Homo sapiens: one gene and its partners. The protein of the gene in region 2 purifies or fractionates together with the protein of the main gene of each other region. This does not show direct contact. Each region holds a gene or a part of one and is shown on either strand. Other genes may lie near its edges.

Region 1 (7,888 bases), on a different chromosome or scaffold from region 2:
CCAAAAAAATGTAAAAATATGGTATATTTAACTTAAAAATGGAAATGCTTGAAACTATGTAAAGCACTAGAGTGTTCTGCACGTTATGTATATCTTCAAGTTAACATCAAGTGCAGAATTGGCATTTTTAGAATTCACCCATTAATACTTTCTTTCCCAAACTAGAAAGGAATATTTACTTCCATATGAGATTACATTTTATGACCAAAAATACTTTGTACTTTTAAATTATAAATCATAGGTAGCATCTAAGGATTCACTGAACATTATTCCTTATACCTTAGTTAACATACAGAAACAAAATATTAAACGTGTGATTTGCAAGGTCACAAAGACTTAATAATATCAGAATAACATATTGGGAAACGTAATATTTTGTGCCATATTTCAGGTTGGATTTGTTGAGGTGGAGTACTGGTAACAATCTATCAATCTTAACCTCAGTGAGGACACCAGATGTGTTAATTCTTTAAATTATATCAATTTTTGTATATTTCAGAATTTAATTCTTTAAAAGGACAAGTAGAAACGAGCCTAAGGGAAAAACCAAAAAGTCAAAGTGCTATTTTTAAAACAGCTGATAAACAAGATGTTTGTCATTTGACAACAGCCAAAATAGTTAAAGGGGTCATCAAACATTTTAAATAAAGACCCAAGATTACACTGCTCCTCTACCATCCCAAACTCAAAAGGAGACTAAATTGGCTAAATCCCACCCACGTTGGTTTAGCACTAACATTTTCCAAACAGCTCTGGTATTGACTAAAGGATTAAGACATTGCAAACAAGCCTATATAAGCCAGGCAGTTACCTGCAACTGCAATGGTCAAAACGTTGGGAGGGAGGGAGGATGGACGCTAAAATATATTTGATAAAGCGCAACATAATGAATAAATAAAAGCACTTCGCTGCAAGTGACTTAATCCAGATACATAAAGATCTTTAAAGGATATAGCTAAAGCCCAGAGAGGGAAAAAAAAAAAAAAAAAACTGCTTGTCACAACTGTAAATACTTAAACTGGGAATTCGACCGTAGCACTTCACTAGCTGGTTGAAATGGGAAACCATGGACAAATTATTTAATTCTACCAAGGTTAAGGTGACTAGTTCAAATTTGAGCCCAGCTCCCCAATCATCAGAGCTGATGAGCGTTCCGGATACTGAGGAAAGCAAAGTAAATTTCCTGACAGAATGCACAGCTGACCACCAACACAAAGAGCATTGAGACTTGCATCCACATCTGGGAGAGGTTATATCTTTAATAGAAACTAAAATTACATTTTAGCTAAGTCTCTAGAACTTCCTAGCTCCTTGTTTTCACACATTACTTTGTCACTTTTCAATGCCGCTTATCTGCTATTTTAACACTTGAAACGACAGCTTTCTCAAATAAATAACACATTAAAAAGGGCAAGCTAGTACAGAATCCAGTACAGAATCTTAAACCTTTGAAAATCACGGTGGAGACGTGGGGAGAGGAGCACGGACTAATTATTAATCCCACTCCCTACAATTACGGATAAGACACTATTGACGATTCACCTACTACTTACAGCACAACTTCCAGGAACAGTAGCTAAAACCCTCCACACATCTCAACTGAGAAACAACCAAAAAATAACCTCGCGGGAAACCTCAGAAGCGCAGCCCAATTCCCCACCCCCTTCCGCCCAAATCGCCTCAATATGGAAAGGCAGCTGAAGGACACTCCTACAATTTGGTTGTTTTCGTATTTTCAGTACCAAATGCTCGCGACTGAAGTGTCTAAAAGGGCAACCGCCTTGTACTTGTGCAGCTACACTCCAGTTGCTTTACAAACTCTTCAAGCAGGGATGGAAACTTAAAAGAATATTACACCCTGTGAATAAAGAGATACTGGGCTGAAGAATGGGGATGGCAGACCCAGAGGCGGCGGCGGAGGAATACATCGAGAAAGTAACACAAAGCGAGAATTGGGCGGGCAGGGTGGTCAACGCCAAAGCAGCAGCATCGGGGTGGTTTCTCCCCCAAGGATAGGAAGTGAACAGGGCTGGCAACCTCGCGAAGGGAAGGGTGTGGTTCCCCGCGGACAGGGTGGGAAATCCAGGCTGAGGGCAGCGGTGGAATTGGGCGATGGCAAAGGAAACCCCTGGAAATTTCCAATCTAAACCGGGACCGCTCAACCGAAAGAACACCAGAAAGGCACTGCCTAGCAGGGTGCTGCTCAATGTCCCCTCTTCTCGAGGTGACTTGTGGCACCATCGACGAGCTTTTGATCGTCCTCGGGTGATGCAAAGTGAGGATATGATTACATCGGAACGGCACCCCCGCCCTAGATTGGCAGAGAAGGACCAAATCTGGCTAAGGGGAAAAGACTGGGGGGGGAGATGAAGGAGGAGATGGAGGGGAAAAAGGAGAGGCGATGAGCTGGAATTAGGGGAGAAAACCGCTGCAAAGGAGTGAAAGGGCAGGGATTCCAATGCAGTCCATTCCACGACATTCTAAGCGCGCACGTGTGATAAAAGCGCCTGGAGAGAGTGGAATGCTAGAACATTTACGAAATAAAAACAAAGCAAGAAAGGCAGCAAAAAGCAAGCAAGGGAGGAGGAGGAAATGTTCGGGAAGCGGACAACAGCGGAAAACCCGATGTGATCAGATGCCAGTAGACCACGAAAAGCTTAGCAATGTCACTGATGTAATGGGGATGGTTCGAGGGAAGGGAGGGAAGGAGTGATACAAGGTAGAGGACGGCGCGAGACCCCAAGGGGGCATCTGCCAAGGTAGAACGGGACACCGGTACCTGTGCTGTCGGCCACGTTGCCCACGGAAGACGCCATCTGGAGCTTCTCGAGGGAGAGCAAAAAAGAGGTAATTGGTCCTGCTGCCGCCACTACCAGCAAGAACGTATTTGGAGGTAGTAGTACAAGGGCAGCAGCCGTAGCAATGCTCTGGAGGGCTTGAGCGGCGGCAGCAGTTACAGGCTTCAAACCCTGGGAACTCTAATTGACCATCTACCTAGTACGGTCTTGAAATGGCGGCGACGGCTCCTCGGCCGAAACAACATGGGCCGGAACTACTTTCTGTTACAATCAAGTGCCCGCGCGGAGGTAGCCGGTAACCAGCGCCGCCAACAAAATGACTTCAAGCTGCAAAGTCGAGATTCCATGTAGTCCTCCGCGCAGCGCCCATTGCGACAAACACCACGGTGGAGACCGCGCATGCGAGCAGCCCTGTCAACCCGACTCGTGGTTAGGGCACTCTCTGGGGCGGAAGCGGCCAAGTTTCTTAAGAGTGTAGCGGAAGGGTAAAAACAAACACACACGGGACGGATACGTTTTTGCCACCGCGATTAAGAAGAGTGTTTGTTACTTAGCAGGTGGTGTCGTTTTAAACATAAATGCCAAAGGCGTCTAAAAAAGTTTATCAACTGTATTCGTACAAAAACGGATGGTTACGACTCTCACGGATCAATTCTGAGCCAGTCAATTCAGAAGATTGCCTCTCAAAGACAGCTGCTCAAAACGAGGAGCGAGAGGGTTCCGATTTGAGCCCGTCTTCATTGTGACTCGGCCATCGATTTCAGCACTTCGATGAAAAAGACTGAAGCTTTCACAGGGCCAGTTGAATGCAGACACCTTCAATGTTGGCCGTATAGCCTGAAATTTCAAAATCGTTTTGGTATTCAGAATACTCCTGCCCACGGTGATAGGGCAAATGTTTAATAACTCAGGGACATGCTGGGCGTTTGCACTCCGAAGGCAGCCATAAAAATGTTAAAGGTGATTCACGTTCGTCAAAATCCATGACTCTCCTCGAGTTGTGACTTCATTTCCACCAGCTAGCTCTGCACATTGTCACAGTCGGCGATTCCACTGAGCTCAAAGCAGATCAACAATGATAAATGAATTCACTTGCCATCTGCCTAAACCACACGTCTAGATTGAGTCATGAATTGCCTCTACTTCCTTGAACAAATCGGTTCTTACGATCTTCCTGCAGTTTCAAGTCTACTGTTCAGACATTTTGTCACATTGGTATTTATACTTCACCTCTTGTTCTAGAAACGACTTAAGGTAGCTTGCCACATCAGCAAGAAAGTATTACAAGCCACTGGAGGCTACAAGTTGGATCTCTGAGAGCCTTTTTATTTCAAAAAGTCCTTGATCTAAGAAAGCAGGTCAATGAATTTCTTCAAAAAGTTTTTGCTACCTAGCCCCTTCACTACATTTTTTAAAACTAAGTCCTCAAATTCTGCTTAAATTTCTTCAAAACAGTCAACAAACAATTAATTATGGAAATGGCACAGAGAAAATTCATAATGCTAATTTCTTCCATCCCATAATCAAGAGTCACATCATGCAGTGAAAAAGACAAAAATCACTACACAAACTCTCCTGAAAATTGAGCACCAACCTCTTGTAATTTGATTTAACTGGTAAAACCTCCCCCCCGCACACACACACCTACTACAAGTTCCCTATCTGTAATGAGTAAACTCAGCTTTTCAACTTTTAGAAGAGACTTCTCAGATTCCACTGGCAGATGTTTAGGCCTTGCTGATGAGCGGGTGCTAGCTAATTAACAAAAACTCTTTTTGTTGTTAAATGCAGGTCATGTTCCTAATTCTTCAGCCAATAAGTAACATTTACTAGAGTCTCTATGTGCAAGGCACTGTGGGGGGCACAAAAATGAACAGAAATCCTCGCCCTCAAGGAATCTGAAGCCTAGTTAGGTAGACACAAAAAGCTACTAGAGAGCAATACAGAAGACTATTTAGATGATAAAATATATTACTCTCTATGAATATCTAGGGAGGAAACAGGTAAGGTTGGAGGGGGTGAGAAAGAAGCCTTGATCTAGACATTGAAGGAAGTGCTTTTGTATGTTTTTTATTGTTGTTCACATTGATTTCTGGGTTTTTTTTATGTGCAATTTTAAATTTAGAACCAATTATAATTAAATCAGCTGGGTCTTCAACCCCAATCCCAAACTTTGTCACCCAGTAACACCACTGATGTTGCATTACTTTTTTTGCTGCTGTGTAACAAAGTATCACAAATACAGCTGCTCAGAACAACACACATTTCACAGCAGTAGCACCAGCGCTGGATGAGACCCGGGCTGGTGGCTGCTGTTGCACTGCTGCTGAAAAAAAATGGCTCCAAAGGTTAAATGAAGCCAAAGAAATACATAGATGTGAGAGGAGAAGCCAGCTGGACTTCCTGGGTTGGGTGGGGACTTAAAGAACTTTTCTGTCTTACAAGAGGATTGTAAAATGCACCAATCAGCACTCTGTAGCTAGGATTGTAAAACGCACCAATCAGCGCTCTGTGGCTAGCTAGAGGTTTGTAAAATGCGCCAATCAGTGCTCTGTAAAAACACACCAATCAGTGCTCTGTGGCTAGCTAGAGGTTTGTAAAATGGACCAATCAGCAGTCTGTAAAATGGACCAATCAGCGCTCTGTAAAATGGACCAATTAGCACCTTGTAAAATGGACCAATCAGCACTCTGTAAAATGGACCAATCAGCAGGACATGGGTGGGGACAAATAAGGGAATAAAAGCTGGCCACATTCCGCACCCACCCACCCACCCACCCACCAGGCCAGTAGTAGCAACCCACTCGGGTCTCTTTCCACACCGTGGAAGCTGTGTTCTTTCCGTCTTCACAATGAATCTTGCTGCTGCTCACTCTTTGAGTCCGTGCCACCTTTAAGAGCTGTAACACTCACCGTGAAGGTCCGTGGCTTCATTCTTGAAGTCAGCGAGACCAGGAACCCACCAAAAGGAACCAACTCCAGAACCACCTCCGGAGGGAGATGCAGCCGCACAGGCTCTCCAGGGGTGCGGGACTAATATTCCAGAGAGAAATTGGTCCCCTGGATGAAGTAACCAGTCACAAAGACTAATTAAAATTGATCTTAAAACCTTCCAGAAATCTTGTAACCTGAATAAAAGTAAAGAAGAAACTGATTTCATGGTAGTACAACAACCATCACTAACTAGTGAATGTGGAAAAGATGATTTCTTATTTGGTAGCTGCACTGGTAAAGATATGGCCACCTGTGATATCAACAGTGAAAGATGAAAAAGGTAAAAAAGGAAAAAACAATGAAAGCCTAATGAGTACATTGAAAAAGGCAGCTTTCTGCAAAACAAAAGCAGAACAGCAAGGGGAGCACACCCTATGGGAGTTCTGCCAGATGAGGATACTTTTTCTCTCAGCACCAACAGTCTTTAAAGATGTGAGAGCTCAAAGACCAATAAGGTCCACTTCCCTCCACAATCCTCACTGTAGTCCTCTCCTTGGCTTACAAACTAAGGAGACACGTATCAAAACGGAGATGAGACGAAGAGACTCAAAGCCTTGGTTCATTCTTCCAATCCAAGTCTGGCACGGATTTTCACTATCTTCAGCCTGAAGCTGCATACAAAGAACAAAGTAAAGAGTTCAAAATTTCAGAATGGAGACTTGCATCTTCACTTCAAGGAACATGTGCCTGTACTTATTGGACTTATGCCTCAAGACTATATTCAGTATTCTATGCCTTTAGATGAGAGGCTTTATCCTTTGCAAGGGTGTCATGCTATTGTCTGGACAGTTCTCCCATGGAAGTGAGTGGTGAAGCCAGCTGGACTTCTGGGTTGGGTGGGGACTTGGAGAACTTTTGTGTCTTACAAGAAGATTGTAAAACGCACCAATCAGCACTCTGTGTTTAGCTAAAGGATTGTAAATGCACCAATCAGCACTCTGTAAAAATGCACCAGCCAGGTGCAGTGGCTCACACCTGTAATCCCAGCACTTTGGGAGGCTGAAGCAGGCAGATCATGAGGTCAGGAGATGGAGACCATCCTGGCTAACATGGTGAAACCCCGTCTCTACTAAAAATACAAAAAATTAGTCAGGCGTGGTGGCGGGCACCTGTAGTCCCAGCTACTTGGGAGGCTGAGGCATGAGAATGGCATGAACCCAGGAGGCGGAGGTTGCAGTGAGCTGAGATTGCACCACTGCACTCCAGCCTGGGCGACAGAGCGAGACTCTGTCTCAAAAAAAAAAACAAAAACAAAACGCACCAATCAGCGCTCTGTTTCTAGCTAAAGGATTGTAAATGCACCAATCAGCACTCTGTAAAATGCACCAATTAGCGCTCTGTGTCTAGCTAAAGAATTGTAAAAACACCAAAGAGCACTCTGTAAAATGGACCAATCAGCACTCTGTAAAATGGACCAATCAGCAGGATGTGGGCGGGGACAAATAAAGGAATAAATGCTGGCCGCCCCCAGCCCCACTGGCAACCTGCTTGGGTACCCTTTCACGCTATGGAAGCTTTGTTCTTTTGCTCTTCACAATAAATCTTGCTGCCGCTCACTCTTTGGGTCTGTGCTACCTTTAAAGAGCTGTAACACTCACCGCGAAGGTCCACGGCTTCATTCTTGAAGTCAGCAAGACCAAGAACCCACTGGAAGGAACCAACTCCGGACACAGATGTTTCTGGGAATTCTATCCCCAAAGCTGAGAATCGGGTAGAGCAGGACCTGGTCGTTGCTCCAGAGATCTTTGTGGATCCATCTCTGAATGGCTTGTTCATTGGTACCTGTAAGGAGTTACAATGCAGAGCCCAAGAGCAAGCCATGAAGACATTCCTGAAGACACTTTCATCATTACTACCTCCAATACAGAATCTAAAGGAACTTCTGTGGACTCACAGGTGCAGTTGTCTATGTGTGTGTCTGAAAGTACCCACTGTCATTTGAATTCTAATCCTGACTGTCCTCCTGGGGTTGCAAGAGTTGATGATTCTGTCCAAAGTAGTGACACTATGGTTGTGACAAGCCTTACAGAGGAGCTGAAAAAACCTGCAAAATAATAATGGTGCTGGGGGCAATCATACACTGACAGGCAGAAGAA
Region 2 (7,020 bases):
AACTCTACCTGGTGCATCCCATACCTCTCAGAACTGCTGCATTTCAACCCTGCACCTCCACCTGGCTGTGCCCTCAGGACGACCTGACCCCTTCATCCCTACCTCTTGCTCTCCCATCAGAACCCACGCAGCACACCCCTTCTCCTTATGCCTGACCCTGCTCACCGTCTTCATCTTCCTCAGCAGGAGTGGAGGGACGAGGCCTCTTTTCCTCACTGGCCTCGGAAATTTCCGATGGCTCTTTCCGCTTTACCTGGGGGATGGGGAAAAGATGGGGCCTGTTTAGAGCTCAAACACTCAGGCAGAGCACGGTGGCTCACTCCTGTAATCCCAGCACTTTGGGAGGCCAAGGCAGGTAGATCACCTGAGGTTAGGAGTTCAAGACCAGCCTGGCCAACACAGTGAAACCCCAGCTCTACTAAAAATACAAAAATTAGCCAGGCGTGGTGGCGGGTGCCTGTAACCCCAGCTACTCGGGAGGCTGAGGCAGGAGAATCGCTTGAACCCGGGAGGCGGAGGTTGCAGTGAGCTGAGATCAGGCCACTGCACTCCAGCCTGGGCAACAGAGTAAGACTCCATCTCAAAAAAAAGAAAAAACTCAAACACTCATGGTTCCTGACCACCCCTACCCCAAGGAAGGGGGCCCCCTCTCCCTCTCCCCACCCTACCCCACAAAACGACAGTTCTGAGTACCTTGAATGAAGGCAGCCGCAGGGCCCCTCTCAGCCCTGACCCAAAGGCGAAAGCCTCGATGCCCGTAGTGCCCCCGCTCTTGGCCCAGTCCACGAGGGACAGCAGGCCAGGCTCCTTCAGCTTCGTCTTCTCTTTATCCTCCTCCTTGGCTTGCTGCTTGGCCGCGTTCTGGAATGGCTGCAGGCAGCAGTGGGGCTGAGCCCCAGCGCCCAGAACCCAGGCATTCCCTCCTGCCTGAGACCTACTCCCGGACCCCAGGAATACAGAACGCATCTACTTGCTGCTCCATATCTTGGTCACACCTGTCCCAGCCCCCGCACGGCATTTTCTCAAAAGTCTGTCATTTCGCCCACCAGTCTTAAGAAATAGCCACCATTCCCACTTCACAAGTGGCAAAATGGAAGACCAAAGCTTGAAGAGAGCTAAGGGCCTTGTCCACTGCAAGCCAGCAAGGAATGGAGCCAGGACAAAGCTCTGCTGCCTCCCAGGCCCATCTGTGCCTGCTTCTCTGTCCCCTCAACTCCCCTGCCCACCCAGGGTGGCCTGCAGGGCCTGCGGCCTCTCTCCACTCGCCTCCATCACCTGTCTCCTCTGAGCTGTGCAGCCTGGAGGAGCCAGAGGCCCATTTCCTCCTGCAAAGCCCAGGGCTCCCCGGTCCCAGGCGCTGGCCTCACCTTGGCCTTCTCCTCCTTGCTCTCCCACCACTGGTCAAAGGCTCCGAAGGCCACGTTCTCCACCATCTTGCGGTTGAGGTCTCGCTGCATGATGCTCTTCATCTCCTGGACCAGCATGGCGAGCACACGGCCCACGGTGCCTGCTGTCGGGAGGGTCTTGCCCTCTGCCAGCTCTGCTTCTTCCCTGGGTGGCAGCCGGGCCTCCTCTCCCGAGACTGAGGAGGAGGGCAGGGGCTCGGCTGCCATTGGCATGGGCAGGTGGTAGGCCTCCCGTGAGTATGCCCCTCTGCCCTCCTGCCCCTGTGCATATAGAGCATACGGCAAGCCGTAGGCTGCCTCCTGCGGGGGTGGAAACGGGAGGAAGGCCTCCCCAAAGGCCCCACCGGGGGGGCCAGCTGAGGCGGCAATCAATCCCTTGCCCTGCCGCAGCTGATGGAGCCGAGTTAACATCTGGGTCTGCATCTGGAAGGACATGGGCATCCCTCCCCACTGAGCCCCAAGTCGGTCCATGAGCTCCAAGGAGTTCACAAAGTCATAGATGTGCGGGGGTGGTGGAGGAGGTGGGGGGTACTCAGGGGGCGGCGGCCCATCAGGTCTGGGTGGGAGGAGGTAGGCAGGTTGGTGGGGAGGATAACCAAGAGGAAGGGACGCCAGGTAGGGAGGAGGAGGCGGCGGGGGAGGGGGAGGTGGCGGAGGCTGCTGAGGGGGCGTCGGGGCCGGAGGGGGTGAGCCACCCCGGTCGTCGTCGGAGATCTCCATGTCGTCTCCAGAAGAGCATGGAGAAGCCTGCGGGGGCAGAAGAGGGTCACAGAAGGCTTCTGCCTGACCCAAGCCCTACTTTCTCATCTGGTTCCCTTCCCTCTCCCCTAGGCCCAACCCTGACTCCCAGAGCCCAGGTGCCTCCTCTGGCTGACCCCAACCTCACCTGGTTCTGTCCATTTGCCTTGGGAGACTCCCGGGTAGCCCCTGGCTCCCCGCTCCCTGTAGGTGCCACATCCTCAAAATTAGCTGGGGCCGGAGGGGGTGTGCAGGGCCCATGCCCTGACCCAGAAGGCACCTCACTCCCTGTATCTCTGGCCCCAAGGACCATGCTGCTGTTCTCTTCCTCCTCCTCTGTGTCAGAGGCCAAGAAGGAAAACTTGGAGCGCTGCTCCTTCAGCAGCATCTCGATGCGGGAATCCAGGCTGCTGTGCTGGGCGAAGGGCACACTCTCATTGGTGGTCTCCGGGGCTGGGGAGCCAGAGCGGGCAGGGGAGGCTGGGCGGGGGGAAGTCCGAACTTCTTCTCTCTCAGGGCTGGGCCCTCCTCCACCCCCGCCTCCACCAGGTTCTGGAGGCTCCGGGGGTGGAGCCTCTGAGGCAGGAGGCCGGTAGTCCTGGTCGGTGGGCCGGCTGGGCTCGGGGGGCAGGTAGGAGGTGTAAGAAGGTGGGAAGCGCTCAGCTGTATTTTCAGCAAAAGGGGCTCCAGGGGGTTCCTCCCGTGTGGCCCGGCGTGGTGGGTAGGAAGTATGGCGCTGGTAGCGATTCCAGCTTTCATAATACGCTGGGTAGTTTGCATCAGAACTACGAAACTGAGAGGACGAGGAGGAAGAGGATGACGAGGAGGACGAGGACAATGAGGAGGAAGAGGCGGAGGATGAGGCAGTGGCTGCAGTGGTGGCGGCGATGGCCGTGGAGGCGGTTGTGGAGGCTGAAGATGCAGAGAAGTGGCGGCGGGAAAAGGCATCTTGGTAGCTGTTCTCTGACCGCCGGGGCTTGAAGGAGGTTGAAGTGGTGCTGGAGAAGAAGCAGGGGAGTTAGCTGGACTCAGCTCTCTATGACCAAACCACAGCGTACTGGGTCCCAGGGCCCAAAGCCCCTCTATGCTGCCCTCCAAAAGAAGAGCTATATGTTGGGTTCCTAGCTAGTGTGTTCCCCGAGGACAGCAATTTGTTGACTGAATCCACAGAGAAACTAGGACAAATTATTTCCAACTCCCTCTTGGAGACAGACTCTGGGCATCTTCTTCCCAGTGGCAGCTCCCAGACTTTGCGGGCGGGGCCCCAGGCGGGGTCTGCTCTGTACCTGCTGGAGTAGGCAGAGTCCTGAGAGTAGGGGGTGCTGCCCCGAGACGTGTAGGGGGTTCCTTGGGAGGACTGAGGTGTGAACTGGCCAAAGGAAGATGGGGTATCTTGTCGGCTGCTGGAGAAGCTTGTGTCCTGGGAGCAGGGGGTGCCGTTGCCAGGAGTGCCCACCGCAGTGGTGCCTGCTGGGTAGGCAGCTGTGTCAGAGGAAGAGCGGCGGCGGGATTCGGCCTAGAGCGACAGAGCAGGGCAAGGAGAGAGGAATGGGCTCAAACACCACTTGAGACCTGCCCTTTCCCAAACCAGGAATCCTAGTTCCCTTTTTTTTTTTTTGAGACGGAGTCTCGCTCTATTGCCCAGGCTGGAGTCCAGTGGCGTGATCTCGGCTCACTGCAAGCTCCGCCTCCCGGGTTCATGCCATTCTCCTGCCTCAGCCTCCCAAGTAGCTAGGACTACAGGCGCCCACCACCATGCCTGGCTAATTTTTTGCAGTTTTAGTAGAGATGGGGTTTCACCGTGTTAGTCAGGATGGTTTCAATCACCTGACCTCATGATCCACCCGCCTCGGCCTCCCAAAGTGCTGGGATTACAGGCGTGAGCCACTGTGCCTGGCCCCTAGTTCCCTGTCTTTTGAAAGCATCTCAGCAGCTTTGCTTGGCTCTTCTTTGTTTAACGGGAAAGCCCGGAACCTCCCGAAGACTGCTCCTGCTCCGGGCACCCGGACACCATGCCCACATGGCTAGGGGCTGTGGTAGCCACAAACTTCTCACCGTCTCAGTGGCTGCACCCGAGCCTTGGAACTTCTCACTCAGGGCCTTGCCCCCAGTGGGCACAGTCTGAGGGGTGTAGGAGCCATTGACAATTAGTTCATAGTATTTCATTCGTTGTTGTCCTGGAGGGAGGGAAATGGGAACCAATTGTCAGATGGAGATACTAACTCCTTCCTGATCTGGTATTCCTGCTTTCTCAGGCCTCAAGTTTCCTACAATTTCTTGGAATCTGGGTTTCAGGATTTCAGTTCTCCTACCATAACTCTACCTTTGGGACCTTCTACCTTATCTCTACCTCTAAACTACCACAAACAACATATTTTATGACACTTCACGATTTATCAAAAACACTTCTACTTATTTTACCATGTTGGATCACCAGAAGGGAAGCATCAGTACCTCTGTTCTAGAGGCTTAAAAGCGACCTACACAAAGTCACAGAATTGGTCATTGGAAAAATTGGAATTCAAACCCAGAGGCTCGATCACCCCATGCTCTTTATCCTGTAAACTAAAGCATGCAGAACAGCAACCGGGGGACTAACGGAGCCTGCAGGAGCTGTGGAGTGAACACCTCAGAAACACCTTGTGAGGAAAGAAACATGGTATTTAAAAACCATGAGATTTCACACAAAAACCCAAATTTCTGGCTTGAGTGCAGTGGCACGATGTAATCTCCACCTCCCAGGTTCAAGTGATTCTCATGCCTCAGCCTCTCGAGTAGCTGGGATTATAAGCATGAACCACCACGTCCGGATTTTTGTTATTTTTAATAGAAATGGGGTTTCACCATGTTGACCAGGCTGGTCTCGAGCTCCTGTCCTCAGGTGATCTGCCCACCTTGGCCTCTCAGAGTCTTGGGATTACAGGCGTGAGCCACCGCATGCCCGGCCCTGGCTTTCTTTTACAAACCAAATTCAAGAATGTTAAACCTCATTTCCACTTGCAAACTGGCCAGTGCCTACTAATGGCTGCCTCCTCCAGACAATACTGCAATCTGCAGCTCGCCACAGACCCCACTGCTCCCCATCACTCAACACAGAAGCCCAGACCACCTCGCTTGTGTTCACAGCTCCTTTACTCTCTATCTCAAATTTCCAAACCTAAAAACCCAGAAAATCCAGTATTTCTGAGAATCTGGCACCAAAACCTATATGGGTTATAGAATAGCATATAGAAAGATTAAAAAGAGGCCAGGCATGGTGGCTCATGCCTGTAATACCAGTACTTTGGGAGGCCGAGGCAGGCAGATCACTTGAGGTCAGGAGTTCAAGACCAGCCTGGCTAACAGGGTGAAACCCTATCTCTACTAAAAATACAAAAATTAGCCGGGCGTAGTGGCGCATAAATGTAATCCTAGCTACTCAAGAGGCTGAGGCAGAAGAATCACTTGAACCTGGGAGGTGGAGGTTGCAGTGAGCCAAGATCGTGCCACTGCACTCCAGCCTGGGCGACAGATTGAGATTCCATCTCAAAAAAAAAAAAAAAAAATTAAAAACAGGCTGGGCAGTGTAGTGAGACTTCATCTCTGCAAATAATCAAAAAAACTTTGGCCAGGTGTGGTGGTGCATGCCCATAATCCCAGCTACTCAGGAGGCTGGGGTGGCTGAGCCCAGGAGCTGGAGGCTGCAGTGAGGAAAGATCACGCCACTGCTCTCCAGCCTAGGTGACAGAGCAGGATCCTGTCTCAAAAACCAACCAAGCAACCAACCTGACCTGGGCTGATTTACTACAATCTATTCATCTTACCTAGTACAACCCTTCATATGATTTTTTTTTTTTTTTACAGATAGTTATGTGCTTGATTATGGCCTATTGCCCGACCTTGCTGGAGACACCACACACACAAAAATCCATGTACCATAATTCCACTCTAAAATCTGATCTGATTTCAGAAACACAACTGGCCCCAGCAGTTTCAGATCATGACCCTGGGCGCCTGCCTGACCCTGACAGGCATTTGCATGTACAACCTCCGCTGGAGGCCAAGCCTGAGTGGCAGGCAGAGGAGTCCTCACCTTTGATGTCAAGCTGGGCATGGATGATGTTGCCCATGACGGAGGTAAGGTGGAGGTTTTTGACCGTTTCCTTGGCGCCCCGAGTGCTGGTGAAGAGCACACGGGCCAGGCCCAGGTGCTTGCGCGTACGGGGGTGAAGGAGGATCTCTACCTCTTCCACCTCACCGTACTTACGGCACATATCCTTCAGGAAGGTCTCCCGCACGTTGTCATTCAGCCTTGCAAAAGTCACTTCCTTCAGTGGAATCTGTCCAATATAGAACTCGTCCAGCTGGGGAAAGAACAGGAGTTGGTATGGGGTCTCAACACTGACCACTGTTCCTTTGTCCTTCGGGAAACTTTAGCAAGCTCCATGAAGTCAAGAGAGAGATCCGGGAAAGTGAGGGGCAAGGGAAGGGGCCCAAAATAAGGGATCCATCAGACCTGACCCCTTTTCCCTGAATTCTTCTCACCACAGAATAACAGCAAGAATTAAGAACAGAAATGTGCAAACTAGGCCGGGTGTGGCAGCTCACACTTATAATCCCAACACTTTGGGAGGATGAGGTGGACGGATCACCAGAAGTCAGGAGTTCAAGACCAGCCTGTCCAACATGATAAAACCCTGTCTCTACTAAAAATACAAAAAAAAAAATTTAGCTGGATGTGATGGTGGGCACCTGTAATCCCAGCTACTCAGGAGGGTGAGGCAGGAGAATCACTTGAACCTGGCAGGCAGAGGTTGCACTAAGCCGAGATCACACCACTGCACTCCAGCCTGGGCAACACAGCGAGACTCCGTCTCAAAAAAAAAAAAAAAAAAAA
Region 3 (7,667 bases), on a different chromosome or scaffold from region 2:
AACCCCATCTTGACTAAAAATACAAAAAATTAGCCAGGCATGGCAGGGCATGCCTGTAGTCCCAGCTACTCAGGAGGCTGAGGCAGGAGAATTGCTTGAACCCAGGAGGCGGAAGTTGCAGTGAGCCAAGATAGCGCCACGGCACTATGGCCTGGACGACAGAGTGAGACTCTCTCTCCTGTCTCAAAAAAAAAAAAAGGTGATATTGTAGACATCAAGAGAATGGCTACTGTTCAAAAAGGAATGCCCCACAAGTGTTACCATGGCACAACTAGAAGAGTCTACAATGTTACCCAGCACGCTGCTGGCATTGTTGTATACCAACAAGGGCCTGATTCTTGCCAAGAGAATTAATGTGCGTATCGAGCACATTAAGCTCACTAAGAGCCGAGATAGCTTCCTGAAACACATGAAGGAAAATGACCAGAAAAAGAAAACAAAGAGAAAGGTACCTGGGTTCAACTGAAGTGCCAGCCTGCTCCACCCAGGGAAGCACAGTTTGTGAGAACCAATGGGAAGGAGACTGAGCTGCTGGAATCTATTCCCTATGAATTCATGGCAAAATAAGTGTTAAAAAAATAAAAGACCTCTGGACTGCAAAAATGTTTCTCTTCGGCTGGGCGAGGTGGCTCATGCCTGTAATCCCAGCACTTTGGGAGGCCCAGGCAGGCAGATCATGAGGTCAGGAGATCGAGACCATCCTGGCTAACACAGTGAAGCCCCGTCTCTACTAAAACTACAAAAAAAATTAGCCGGGCATGGTGGCGGGCACTTGTAGTCCCAGCTACTCAGGAGGCTGAGGCAGGAGAATGGTGTGAACCTGGGAGGCAGAGCTTGCAGTGAGCCAAGATCGCACTACTGCACTCCAGCCTCGGCGACAGAGCAAGACTCCGTCACAAAAAAAAAAAAAAAAGTTTATCTTCATTGAGTAGAAGTGTGGTGTCTTCTCCCTTAAAGAAATATTTAAAGCACATTTTAATTGTGTCCTAATTCATTATGTAATGTCTTTACTGTTCAAATTTAACGTATTTCTTGCTGAAAAATGTGAGGTAGCTTATTGTGGAACAAATTACTCAATTGGTTAGAAAATGGCAAGATATTATTTATGAAATATTTGTACTGGTTTGAATATAGTCCCTCTAAATCATCATGGAAGAAATAAAATAATTTACCAAAAAAAAGAAATTATATACTCTTTTCTAGAGAGACAATCAGGAGGAAACACAGCAAAGACGTCATTGGTAGGAAATGCTGACTGCTTAAAGCAGTCTTTTAAAAAGATTTAAATGTATGCTTTTTGTTGTTGTTTTTTGGGTATTTAAAACACTCATCCCTAGGACCTGTATTCATACGAAAAGAAAATCACCTTGGAACAGCCAAGGCAGTGCAGATCGGTGACCCAGATTCTTTTCAATGTATCTAGAATGTTTTTCAAGGCTACAAAATTGTTCAAGTTACATTGCAACCAGTATAATGTGTCTACCCAGTGTAACTTGAACTCAGAGATACAAAGATGTATCTTTTAGATTCAGTGTGTGTTATTCAATAAGGCAATTAGGGCACATTTGAGAAAATGGATTGTGAACCATTATAAAGTTCTCATCTTCTTGCATTGTAGAAAATATTTAAGATTTTCTATATACTGTTCACAAAACAAATTATTTATTAGCCACTGACCCAATTCATTTTTAGCAGTAAATACTTTATTGTCTCATTACTTTTTTAAACTTGGACATTATGCCTAATTAAATTTGTAAAGTTTTTCAGAACTTTTATGGATGATTTCTACTTAGTTATTCCCAAAAAGCTGAATAAATTTGATTCACACATCCAAATATACCAAAGAAATACCATGTCTTTTTATCATACCACACACTTAAAAACTTATAAACTTAGAATATAGCAACATATATTATATTGTATTGTTGGTAATTAAGTAAATGTTATAGTCTCACCTTTTCATAACTAATTTTTATTTTTTTTTATTTTTTTTTTGAGACCCAGAGTCTCACTCTGTCGCCCAGGCTACAGTGCAGCGGTGCGATCTCGGCTCACTGCAAGCTCCGCCTCCCGGGTTCCTGCCATTCTCCTGCCTCAGCCTCCCAAGTAGCTGGGACTACAGGCGCCCACCACCACGCCTGGCTAATTTTTTGTATTTTTAGTAGAGACGGGGTTTCACCGTATTAACCAGGATGGTCTCGATCTCCTGACCTCATGATCCGCCCATGTCGGCCTCCCAAAGTGCTGGGATTACAGGCGTGAGCCACCGCGCCCGGCTCATAACTAATTTTTAAAATGAATAAAACATTTATATTTTACGCTATTTTAGTCTTGTAATCTTGACTGCTTTTTTTTTTTTTTTTTTTTTTGAGACAGGGTGTCACTCTGTCACCAAGGCTGGAATGAAGTGGCACCACCATAGCTTATTGCAGTCTTAACCTCCTGGGCTCAAGCAATCCTCCCACCTCAGTTTCTCAAGGTCTGCAACATCACACCTGGTTACTTTTTTGTTTTGTTTTGTTACTGGTCTTGAACTTGTGGCTTCAAGCCACCCACCTGCCCCAGCCTCACAAAGCTCTAGGATTACAGGGGTTTGCTGCCACGCCCAGCCTTGACTGCATATAGTAATTAATCTTTTAAGATTCATATCCATGACTTTCTCCTCTCTGCTATCTTCATCAAACTCCTCAAAACACACAGGATACTCTGAATTGAAACAATGAAGTCAAATTGTTTCTGATTTAAAGTAAATCTGATTTGTCTAGTTTGACAATGAAAATGGGCTCTGTTAATTAGGTTATAAGGTAAACATTTAACATTCTTAACAAACCTTTTTTTTTCTTGTTTTTGAGAAGGGTCTCACTCTGTTGCTCAACCTGGAGTGTACTGGCCCCATCATGGCTCACTGCAGACTTGACTTCTTGGGCTCGGGTGATCCTCCCACCTAATCCTCCCAAGTAGGTAGGACTACAGGTGCACGCCACTACACCGCCTAATTTCTTTTATTTTTTTGTAGAGGTGGGGTCTTGCCATGTTGCCCAGGCTGGTCTTGAACTCTGGACTCAACCGATCCTCCCGCCTCAGCCTCCCAAAGTGCTAGGATTACAGGCGTGAGACACTGTGCCCAGTGACAAAGATTTTGAACTTGAATGAGCTAAATCTGCAGTTGCAAATTTTGACAAAAACATAATTTAACCACCTGATAACAAAAATAAATCTTATCCAAAACTATTTATGAAAATGAAAAATGTTTAGATATTCTCCAAACTTTCAGTATATCAGGTGAAAGGTACACCTCATTGAAAAAATCAGGTCTAATTCATAGTCATTTGGTATCTTGGTAAAACCTATCTGGTATATTTCCCAGAATCTGAAAGAGTGAAAAAATAAGGATTAAGTAAACAAATCCTTTGGCAAGCCAGGTGGTTTTCAGCTCTTTGCTTTCCATAAAATAGAAGGAGGGCCTAATTGAAGTCAGCTCATAGATAATCAAATCTAATTTTTTGAGGTCAAGAATTGAATGATATTGCTACAACAAAACTCTTCCATTCCTAGGCACAGTACTTGTTTATATGAACAAGGTTTCTCAGGGCACACAGCTATAAAAATTACAAATAGGAATAGAATTGATGCTCAACCCTTCTTTTCCTACTAATAAGATATATTCAGCCACAGATGTAGGAACTTTAAAAAGCAACAATATGCATTTTTCAATAAAGTTACACACACTATTTAGTAATTATGAAATTTTCTAATATTTATGTTGCTTTGACCACGTACTAATAATAATTTCAAAGATGATGCAGTCCAAAAGCAGGTGATTTGCTAGCTGTGTAATCTTACTCAACATACTTAATTTATCTGAGCCTTGGTTCCCTGATTTGCAAACTGGGGACAGTAATCAGACCTAGCTCTTAGTGTTTGTCCAAAGATTAAATGCGTTAATACATGTAAAAGCACTTAACGCCACGCTTGGTACATAATATGTGCTATAGATGTTTTACCTGCTATAATCATAGTAATCAATAGCAAATCTCCTAAAAATAAAAGCCTGTCGATTTGTCTTCACAGATAGGAAGAACGGGCTGGAGGGATCGGATCTAATCCACAGGCACACTGCCAGAAACAAGGGACCCCCACGGGGAAATGGTATGTGCAGGCAGAAGAGAGACAGAAGGAACTTGGAGCTACCTGCTGGGACAAGAATAGTGCAGGATCACAGGCTAAGAACGAAGAGGGTTGGGCGAAGTTAGAATGAGCAGATCCACGTAGGGTTCGCATTACAAATGTCTATGGATCTCTATGCACTGCTCCGGGAAACTGGAGCAAGAGAGGCAGGCCTAAAATGCCGTCGCGGATGAAGCGGGGCCAGAAACGCACTGCCCCCGCTCAGACCTAGGGCCCCAGGTGTCGCGCGGGTCGAAGCCCTAACCTCCAGGGACTCCAGACCCCTGCCGGTGACCTAAACCCCACAACCCGCGACCAGCACAGTCTTGTCGTCTCCGTCGCCACAGTCGCCGCCACTTCCGGCGCAGCTCGGCCTCGCGAGGGCGCTTGCGCCCGGCGACGGTCGAAACTGGCTCTTCGCGGCCTCCGTCGCCGGACTTTCGTCAATGTTGTCACCGTCTTTTCCTCCTTTCCCCCAGTTCCCTTTCACTTCCGGGGTTGCTCTGGATCCGCTGGTTCCGTAACAACATCCCGTTGGCTTCCCTCAGGCGGCGGGACCAGTGCAGCCGCCGCCTCCCAGGATCGTCCGCCGGTCAGGGCCCTTGCCCTCCCCGGCACAGGCCACCATGGCCACCAACCCACAGCCGCAGCCGCCTCCTCCGGCGCCGCCGCCTCCCCCGCCGCAGCCGCAGCCGCAGCCACCGCCGCCGCCGCCGGGCCCCGGGGCTGGCCCCGGCGCGGGCGGGGCGGGCGGCGCGGGTGCGGGCGCCGGGGACCCGCAGCTCGTGGCCATGATCGTGAACCACCTCAAGAGCCAGGGGCTCTTCGACCAGTTCCGCAGAGACTGCCTGGCCGACGTGGACACCAAGGTTAGGAGCGCGCCGGGTTTGGGGGTCTGCGAGGGAAGGGGAGGACCCAAGGGCGCGCTTCTTTTGCAGTGGCTTCCTCTTGGAGCTGCAGCTGTGTGCCACGGACTGTGCAAAGCACAGAGTGTTCATTCCTTAGCGTGTCCTTTGGTTCGTTTTACCGACTAGTGTTTAAGTACCTACTACGTGCCAGTCATGGTTTCGGCACAGTGATTACCCCGGTCTGATGAGCAAGACTAAGGCATTGTTCTTACAGGAACTGGTTTGGAAACAGTGGCGCTAACAGTAGCCAGTTTTGTATTCATTCTCATATCTGATGATTTTACTTTGTATCGAAGTTATGTTTGCCTTCTTTCTTGAAGGTTTCTGGGCGGTAAGGGCCTTTATCCTTTGGAGAAATGACTAAATGGTAATTGAATCAAGTTATGTGTAATATGCTTTGCTGGACATCGTGGGGGTGGGAGCGCAAAGATAAGGAGGCAAACCTGAGACAGGACTTTAGTATTGTTTCTAGCAGTGATTGCCTGATTTAGGTAACTTAGGCCATGTCACCATTCTAAGGTAAGAAGGGACAGGAAGGTGGGGTAGAGAGAACCGAGTCATTCAGTGGAGAAAAGATGCAGGAGAGGTGACAGCAGATACTGAAGTGGAGAAAGGACAGGAAAGAGAGCAGATTCAGGAGAGTAATGTAGAGAAGGGAAAGGACAGCAACAAGGTTCCCTGTCCAGAAAGAGAGGCTGGAAAGGGGAAGGGATTTTGTACCAAATGTCAGAGTGAAAGGGACATTAGCAGGAACAAGTAAACTTAGCTGGATTGGCAAAGAATTAGCCAAAGACACCAGGAAAGAGCAGTCAGTGAGATGGATGGAAAACCACAGTACAGTCTAGAATTCTGGAAGCAGAAAGCATGTTGGAAAATTAACTGGTTTGTAGGGGTTGTTTTTGTCTGCTTGTTAAATCTGGTTGGGTCCATTGGATTGGAGTTTTGATGAAATGAGGGTTTCCTTTTTTTTTTTTTTTTTTTTTTTTGAGACAGAGTCTCGCCCTGTCGCCAGGCTGGAATGCAATGGCGTGATCTCGGCTCACTGCAACCTCCGCCTCCCGGGTTCAAGCGACTCTCCTGTCTCAGCCTCCCAAGTAGCTGGGATTACAAGCGCGTGCCACCACGCCCTGCTAATTTTTGTATTTTTAGTAGACACAAGGTTTCACCGTGTTGGCCAGGATGGTCTCGATCTCCTGACCTCGTGATTCGCCCAGTAGGCATGAGCCACCGCGCCCGGTCGAGGGTTTTCTCATAGTATGTTTAGTTGTTCTGAGGAGCTTTGTATCTTTGAGAAATGCATGTTTACAACATCCACAGTTTCTTCTAAAGCTTTCAGGTGAACTGCACACAGTTCCACTATGTCTTCTGGGGAAACTCTTGAATATCCTGGTACATCTTCCTTTATAAGGACTCATACTGGGCCCACTATGTAAAACGTGGTTTTTCGGGATATTGGAGGTTTTGCACCACAGAGAATTCAATTCACTTGGGAGTGTTCATCTATTTAGGAAGTATAGTTTTTTTTACTTTTGTCTTCAGGAATATGCACTGCTACCTTTTAGAAATAATTTCTATTGCCTTTATTATTTTTGTTGTTATTTAATGGGAAAAGGTTAGACATGGCCAGGTAAATGTTATCAAATAAAGTTAGTTATTCGTATTCAACAAGTGGAATTTTTACTTTGCTGTTCTCAGAAACCCATGAATCTGTGTGTTCTCAGAAACCCATGAATCATTATGTATACAAATTAAAAATTGTAATGTACTGCTGCAATGTCTGAGGCTCAACTTTTTTATTATCCTATTCCCACAAAATGTTATTGGTATGTGTCTATAATATCCCTGCCAGACCCTTCAAAGTAAAGGATTAAAACCTTTTTTGGAGGGAAGGAGGGAAGCACAGTATCTCTGATCATCTAATGAAAGTTAGGACCTTCTCTCAAGAAAAATGCGCAAGTAACACATTAAAACGCTGTTTTTCTACTTCAGAATGGTCAACTATAGGCAATTTCATGAGAATCAATCTAATAACATATACAGTTTCAGTGAGTTCAGGAACCATGGAATAAGAACCTATTTTAATGTTCTTAGCCTCTTTTTTGAGGTCAAGAATTGAATGATATTGTTACAACAAAACTCTTCCATTCCGAGGCACAGTACTTGTTTATATGAACAAGGTTTCTCAGGGCGCATGACTATAAAAATTAGAAATAGGAATAGAATTGATGATCAACCCTTCTTCTAGTAATAAGACATATTCAGCCACAGATGCAGGAACTTTAAAAAGCAACAGTATGGCCAGGCCCGGTGGCTCATGCCTGGCCACCGTGGGCCAAAGTAGAAGATTCCCTGTTCATGCAAAGAACCATCACTTTAATGGAATCCTTGAGTTTCATCTGCCACTTGAACCTCAAAGACTGACCTGCTTTCTGTCAAAAAGTCTTAACTTGTAGCATATAGAGTTATAGTGGATTATGTCTGTCACGTGCATATTTAAGAATGAAGACATTTGATACCTGCCAGGTGCTAAGAGCAAAACTGTCATCCAGTTTAGTGTGTTTAAACCAGGATGAGAAGTACCAAAGTCTGCTG

Evidence for each region.
Region 1: the proteins of SETD1A (region 2) and OGT purify together in Homo sapiens (affinity purification with mass spectrometry; 4 studies listed by BioGRID and IntAct, with this or other methods). This does not show direct contact.
Region 3: the proteins of SETD1A (region 2) and BOD1L1 purify together in Homo sapiens (affinity purification with mass spectrometry; 3 studies listed by BioGRID and IntAct, with this or other methods). This does not show direct contact.

Annotation. Positions count from the first base shown.
Region 1 is NC_000023.11:71,528,228-71,536,115, reverse strand, and holds the start of OGT (UDP-N-acetylglucosamine--peptide N-acetylglucosaminyltransferase 110 kDa subunit), read right to left. Parts: upstream 3,013-7,888; 5' UTR 2,817-3,012; coding exon 2,780-2,816; intron 1-2,779. UniProt on the Homo sapiens protein: Catalyzes the transfer of a single N-acetylglucosamine from UDP-GlcNAc to a serine or threonine residue in cytoplasmic and nuclear proteins resulting in their modification with a beta-linked N-acetylglucosamine (O-GlcNAc).
Region 2 is NC_000016.10:30,960,734-30,967,753, reverse strand, and holds part of SETD1A (histone-lysine N-methyltransferase SETD1A), read right to left. Parts: intron 6,488-7,020; coding exon 6,217-6,487; intron 4,322-6,216; coding exon 4,200-4,321; intron 3,661-4,199; coding exon 3,431-3,660; intron 3,143-3,430; coding exon 2,293-3,142; intron 2,154-2,292; coding exon 1,368-2,153; intron 935-1,367; coding exon of another isoform or gene 871-934; coding exon 694-870; intron 254-693; coding exon 166-253; intron 1-165. UniProt on the Homo sapiens protein: Histone methyltransferase that catalyzes methyl group transfer from S-adenosyl-L-methionine to the epsilon-amino group of 'Lys-4' of histone H3 (H3K4) via a non-processive mechanism.
Region 3 is NC_000004.12:13,624,714-13,632,380, reverse strand, and holds the start of BOD1L1 (biorientation of chromosomes in cell division protein 1-like 1), read left to right. Parts: upstream 1-4,655; 5' UTR 4,656-4,793; coding exon 4,794-5,036; intron 5,037-7,667. UniProt on the Homo sapiens protein: Component of the fork protection machinery required to protect stalled/damaged replication forks from uncontrolled DNA2-dependent resection.